Linked DNA regions of Homo sapiens: region 2 is linked to region 1. Evidence: fine-mapped expression QTL. Tissue or cell type: whole blood. Region 1 holds a variant in brackets; the other region holds the start of a gene. Each region is shown on its reference strand, or each on the opposite one.

Evidence for each region.
Region 2: PDGFRB starts here. The variant in region 1 is fine-mapped to the expression of PDGFRB in whole blood (TOPMed, PIP 0.91).

Annotation. Positions count from the first base shown.
Region 1 is chr1:24,910,263-24,912,762 of GRCh38, forward strand. All of the region lies in intron 3 of RUNX3 (RUNX family transcription factor 3), which reads right to left. Among named protein-coding and RNA genes, the nearest start is that of MIR6731, 7.9 kb to the right of the region's middle. The variant C/T (reference allele first, on the strand shown) is at 1,233.
Region 2 is chr5:150,154,622-150,157,627 of GRCh38, forward strand. PDGFRB (platelet derived growth factor receptor beta) reads right to left here and starts at 1,224. Exons shown (of 23, transcript NM_002609.4): 1 at 776-1,224.

The DNA.
Region 1 (2,500 bases):
TAGGTGACAGAGCAAGATTCCATCTCAAAAAAAAAAAAAAAAAAAAATGTGGGAGGGGGTAAGGGGGAGGAGAAGGTTTGCCTAAGGCCTTGGGTCTAGAATGACATGTGCGTTTTCTAGTTTGGCAGAGGGAGAAGAGGCAAGATGTAGGTGGGAGGTAAAACAGAACTCACTGCGCTTCTTGGGGCCTGAACAAGTGATTGCTGGGGACTCGAAAAGTGGGAAAAGCCTGTCGACCACTGTAGGGCATGAGGGGACAGAGCCCGAGGCCTCGCATGGGCCTGATTTCTGATTTTCAGAATGGGAACGCAATGGATTCTGGTACTTGTAGGCCCCCAAGCTCCCTACGCATCCCTGTTGGAAGCTCAAACAGGTATCTGGGAGCCTCAGAAAGAAAGCAGGGGGCCTGGGAGCCACAGGGGCTCAGCCAGTCACCAAGAACCAGGGAGCCCCACCTTCTCCTCCAATGAGGCCCCAGACCAGGAATCCATGGGACACTTGGTGGCAGGAATAAGACCATTTGGTCTCTGGCCAGGCCCCCACTGCTGCCTCCCAGGGCCCTTGGCAACAAAGGGGAAAACATGGGCTGGGGGCGAGTTTAGCTGGAGCTGGGGCTGCAAACTCAGATGCCCATGGGGATGGGGCAAGTCACGTGAACGAGGCAAGTGGGATGGGTGGGGCCTGGAGCGGATGGGGAGGAGATGCCTTGTGGAAAGCACCTGACTGCTACCCTGAGGAGGGCAGGCCCAGTACGGCCAGAGCTTCCAATTCCAGACCGAGTCCTCAGCCCTAACAGGCCTTGGAGGAAATGTTGTCCTTGCTCCTGAGGCCACTGGAAATGGCAGGGAGATGTGGATGAGCTGGGGGACAAGTGAGCAGAAGAATCTTAACAGGCATGAAGCCTGCCGGGTGGACGTGGGGACCACAGACTGATCCGACAACAGCCTGAGTGCAAAGGATCTGGGTGTTTTAGTCAGCCACAAGCTTGAAGGGAGCCAATAGGGCTGGTGCAAAACCTCAGGCCTTGTTACTTTCGTCACAGGAGAATAAAGTCCCCTGTTTCTGAGTCACACCATGTACAAAGAGTGTTTACAGTTACTCCTGCGGCCTGGCGGAAGAGGGCGGGGTTGACAGCCAGCCTGGGTTCGAGGACGGGTCCTGTCACTTGCAGTCTGGTGGCCTCACTCAAGTCACACTCCTTTCCCCCACCCCGAGCTGCGGTGTCCCCATCA[C/T]ACTGTCTTTGTGGGTTGAGGTGCTGGCCTAAGGTGTGGACACTTTCCAGTCACGTGGGTCACCACCATCATGACCATCGCTTTTATCTCTGCTCATGCCCAAAGGAAGCAGAACTATCATCCCCATGCTGGAGACCGGGGTGTGGAGGCCAGGATGCTGAAGTCGTGTGAGGAACACAGAGCCTGAGCAGCAAGGCAGGATTCACACCCGGATCCCCCGACTCCAAGCCCAGGGCTCTTTTCCTGACACTTTCCCTTTTGTTCCCATTGTTTAGACGGGGCCACCGAGGCTTCACCATGAGACCGACGCTGAGCGCCTGTTCCGGGACCCAGGCTGTGGGTCAGGTAATCTGACCCCGGAACCCACGCTCCCACCACATGCTCCCTTGCCCTCCGTAGGGCAGACTTCCCGGAGGAGGGGAGTCCAACAGCACTTCGGAAATAGCTTCCTTGTTACTGTGGAACGCTGGAGCCACTGCCAGGGAGGGGAGAGGGGAGCCAAGGCGGCCCCACGTGGCCAGGGCGCCAGAGAGTCTCAGAGCCACAGGGCCAGGGCTCTCACACTGGGAATAGGACAGAAGTTCCAGTGCCTGAGGAAAGAAGATGGTCTTCAGAAAAAGCCTCTTTCATTCGGTTACCCAGAGCAAGAGCTGCGTGGGGAGCTCTGGCTCTAACCCACTCCGTCACCTTGGGCCCAGTCCTGCTACGCCTCAGTTTCCCCTCTGCACAGTCTGCTCACTGAGGCCCCTTCCTTTTGAAAGTCCCTGATTTAAGGTAGCAAAGATCAGCCGCTGGTCAGAGGGGCCCCAGAAAGAAAAGAAGGCAGGGCTGCTGGCCCCAGGGCCCACCCACTACCACTTCTTCCTGCTGCTGCTGTTCCCAGTATTTCTTGAATATTCTCTGCCCCCCACTCTTCAGAGCCTCAGCTCAGGACAGCCTCTGCCAGCAATGCTTTCTGTCCTGTGAAGCCCAGTCCAGGAGCCCCTCCTCCAGGAAGCCCCCCTTCTCCCACAGTAGATCCCCATCACACCTCTGCAGGCTAGGGCTGTCCTTTAAAGCAGTCGCCAGCAGGAGTGGAAATCATCAAAACGGCAGCAGATGCTTGCTGGGTGCTTCCTCCACGGCAGCGTCTAAGCAGCTGACAAGCACCATCTTGTTTCGCCTGGCAGCATCCCCTTGAGTAATGTCTGCCACCATCCTATCATATGGGTGAAAAAACTGAGGCTCTGGACAGCCAGTGAGCTCAAGGTCAAGCAGAAGACACACAG
Region 2 (3,006 bases), not on the chromosome of region 1:
TTATGCTTTAGAATGGCATGGAGAAGGGGTAGAGTCCAGAAGGAGGGAGACAACGAGGAGGCCTGAGCAGCTGCCTGGGACCAAAGGAAATGGCCCAGTGGCTGACCCCTTCTTCACAGAGGAGCCCCCAGATCTGACAGCCAGGTCCCAGCCCCCAGACCCAGCAGCATGACCGCTAGGGGGTTGCCATGGCCGCCCATCACCCTCGAACTTTCCTAGCCCTCAAACTTTTCTAGCTGCTGGGGGTTTAGAAGGATATCTTAAGAATCTAGAAAATTTGCAAATCCATTTAAATCCCCAGAGGTTGCCTGGCGGCTGACTGGCCTAAAGCCAGACTGATTCTTAGAAACAAGGCTTGGGCCAAGGAACAGCGGCTATGGTCCTGAGGTCCCCAGTCCCCTGCTTTCTGTGTACCCTGCCTACCTTCTCCCAATTCCCCTCTCCCGCTCTTCCCAGCTCTCCCCACTCCCCATTGACTGTGCTGTGCTTTGGAGGCCCCCAGTCAGCACCCAGAAACCCCTGAGGATTGTTTGATGAAGGCAGGAGCAGCAGGGATGATGAGGTGGAGGCCACTCACCCCAGAGCAGGGGAAAGGAGAAAACTGGCTCCTCCATCCCTGACATCACCCACAGTCTCCCAGCCTCCTCTCATCTTGTTTTGTTAAAAATATCTTCCCTTTTTTTTTTTTTTTTTTTTTTTACCTACTCGAAGAGATGCAGGTTAGGGCAAAGGGACAGGGCATGGGGCTGGGGTTCCCACTTTTTCCAGCACTTACCTTGCTGCTGATGGCTTCTGGTGTGGGCACAGTTCCAGGCTCTGGACAGTCACCCCCTCCAGGAAGTCCTCCTTACTGCCCTCTCCCAGTTATCAGAAAGACTGCTGGTCCCAGAGTGGGTAACAGCTGAGTAGAAGGACAGGCAGGACTGGTGCAGGCTCCTGAAGGCTCAGGAGAACAGAGGGATGGAGGAAGGGGGCTGCTGTAGGGGAGAGGAGCGGCCCAGCTTCGCCTCACTCCCCAAGCATCCTTCGGGAGGAGCAGAGCCGCCAGAGGGGCCGCCCTGGGTCTGGCTGTCTGCGTTGGGCAGGGCGAGCACAGGCTGCTGCTGGGCAGCAGGGCTGAGGGGCCGGCTCTCTCCTCCTCCTTGTTGATCTCCTCTCTGGCTCCAAGTTGCTCACAGAGCGATCCTGGGTCCCAGATAGGGCGGGCAGTCACTGCTGGCTGCTGGCAGCCTCAGGAGCTCACACCACTATGGGCTTCCATGCCCCCCCACTTCCCCCGCCACTTTGGGGGAAAGGCTGCAGGGTGGCTTCTGATTGGCCCAGCTGGGAGAAGGGGGGGCGGCGGGGCAGGGAGGGTGGACGCGTGCGTCTGTTTTCAATTTCAGTTTTTTTCCCCCTCTCTCTTTCTTTTCCCCCAAGTTTCTTGTTTTTCTTCTTTTCACTCTGCTTACTCCCTCCCATCGCCCGTTCGCTCAGGATGTGAGGGGATGCTTAGAAATTCCACAGCCCACGCCAGCCGCCAGCTGCTGAGTCACTTTTGTCAAAGAGTGGCCTCGGCCCCACTTTCCCGATGCCCATGTCGGGTGGCGGCCTCCCCTTGCCATGGCACCCAGGGAGATCATTTCTCAGTGCCTCAGTTTCCCCATCTGTAAAGGAGACTCTGATCATCTCTGTGGTTGATTCAGTCAACCTTCATTCATTGAACAAGCATACTGAGCATTTACTACATTCTAACACTGTACTGGGTGCAGGGGACAGTAGCAAGACGTGGTCCTGACCTCAGAAGCACCAGGCTAGTGAGCAAGATATTCATTGGGCAAGCAGGTGCCCGGTCGGCAGACAGGAGGCTGAGAGTGCATTTAGAAGGACCCCTAACGGAAGCCTGAGAGAATCAGAGAGCACTGCTGAGAAGAGGTGACATGGAGGAGATGGAAAGATCCTCCAAGATGATCAGCCGTTTTTCAGAAGGACAAACCAAGGCCCAGGGGTGAATTGGCACAGAGAGGGAATGTGATTTGGTCAAGGTCATCCAGCACAGATTGGATATCTCTGGATATTGACAGATACATTCCTTTTCACGTCTCAAAGCCCCTGGGGTGCAAGGAGAGGATTATTTGCCCCATTTTATAGATGGGGACACTGAGGCCCAGAGGAGCAAAATAAGCTTCCCAAGCTTACGCAGCAATGGCAGAGCTGGGGCAGAACTAGGTCTCATGAGACACATGATGGAAGAGACACAAGTCATCTGACCCCCACCCGAGACCCCTATTCCAGTGTAGATGAACCCCCTGCCCTGCTTTCTTCCTAGGTTCCCCCTGTGGCTCTTTCATTCAGTCACTCAACAAGATACTTTCTTTTTTTTTTTTTTTTTTTTTTTGAGATGGAGTCTTGCTCTGTCTCCCAGGCTGGAGTGCAATGGCGCAGTCTAGGCTCACTGCAACCTCCGCCTCCCAGGTTCAAGTGACTCTCCTGCCTCAGACTCCCAAGTAGCTGGGATTACAGGCGCACACCACCACACCTGGCTATTTTTGTATTTTTTGTAGAGACCGGGTTTCACTATGTTGGCCAGGCTGGTCTCAAACCCCTGACTTCATGATCCACCCACCTCAGCCTCCCAAAGTGCTGGGATTACAGGCTTGAGCCACCGCACCCAGCCTCAACAAGATACTTTCAAGTATCCGTTTTGTTCCATTTCCATTCTCTGGCTCTCCTTTCCTACCAGGGTCTGCCAAGACTCCTCCAGTTCCCCCAGCTGGGTCTCTTCTTCCACCCTCAGCTTCTCAGATCAGAAGACATCTCCAGTTACAGACTCCTAGCCCTCAGATGGCAAAGGGCATTATTTTAGAAGGGCATATAGAGTGGGCTTACCACCCCTGCTCCCACTACTGCACCCACAGGGCAACTGAATTCCAGAGGGTGAAGAAAGCTGTCCCAGGTGACACAGGTAGAGGCTGGCTCTGCCCTCCTTCCCTCTGCGCCGCTAAGTCTTTCCTCCTCAGCTTCCCC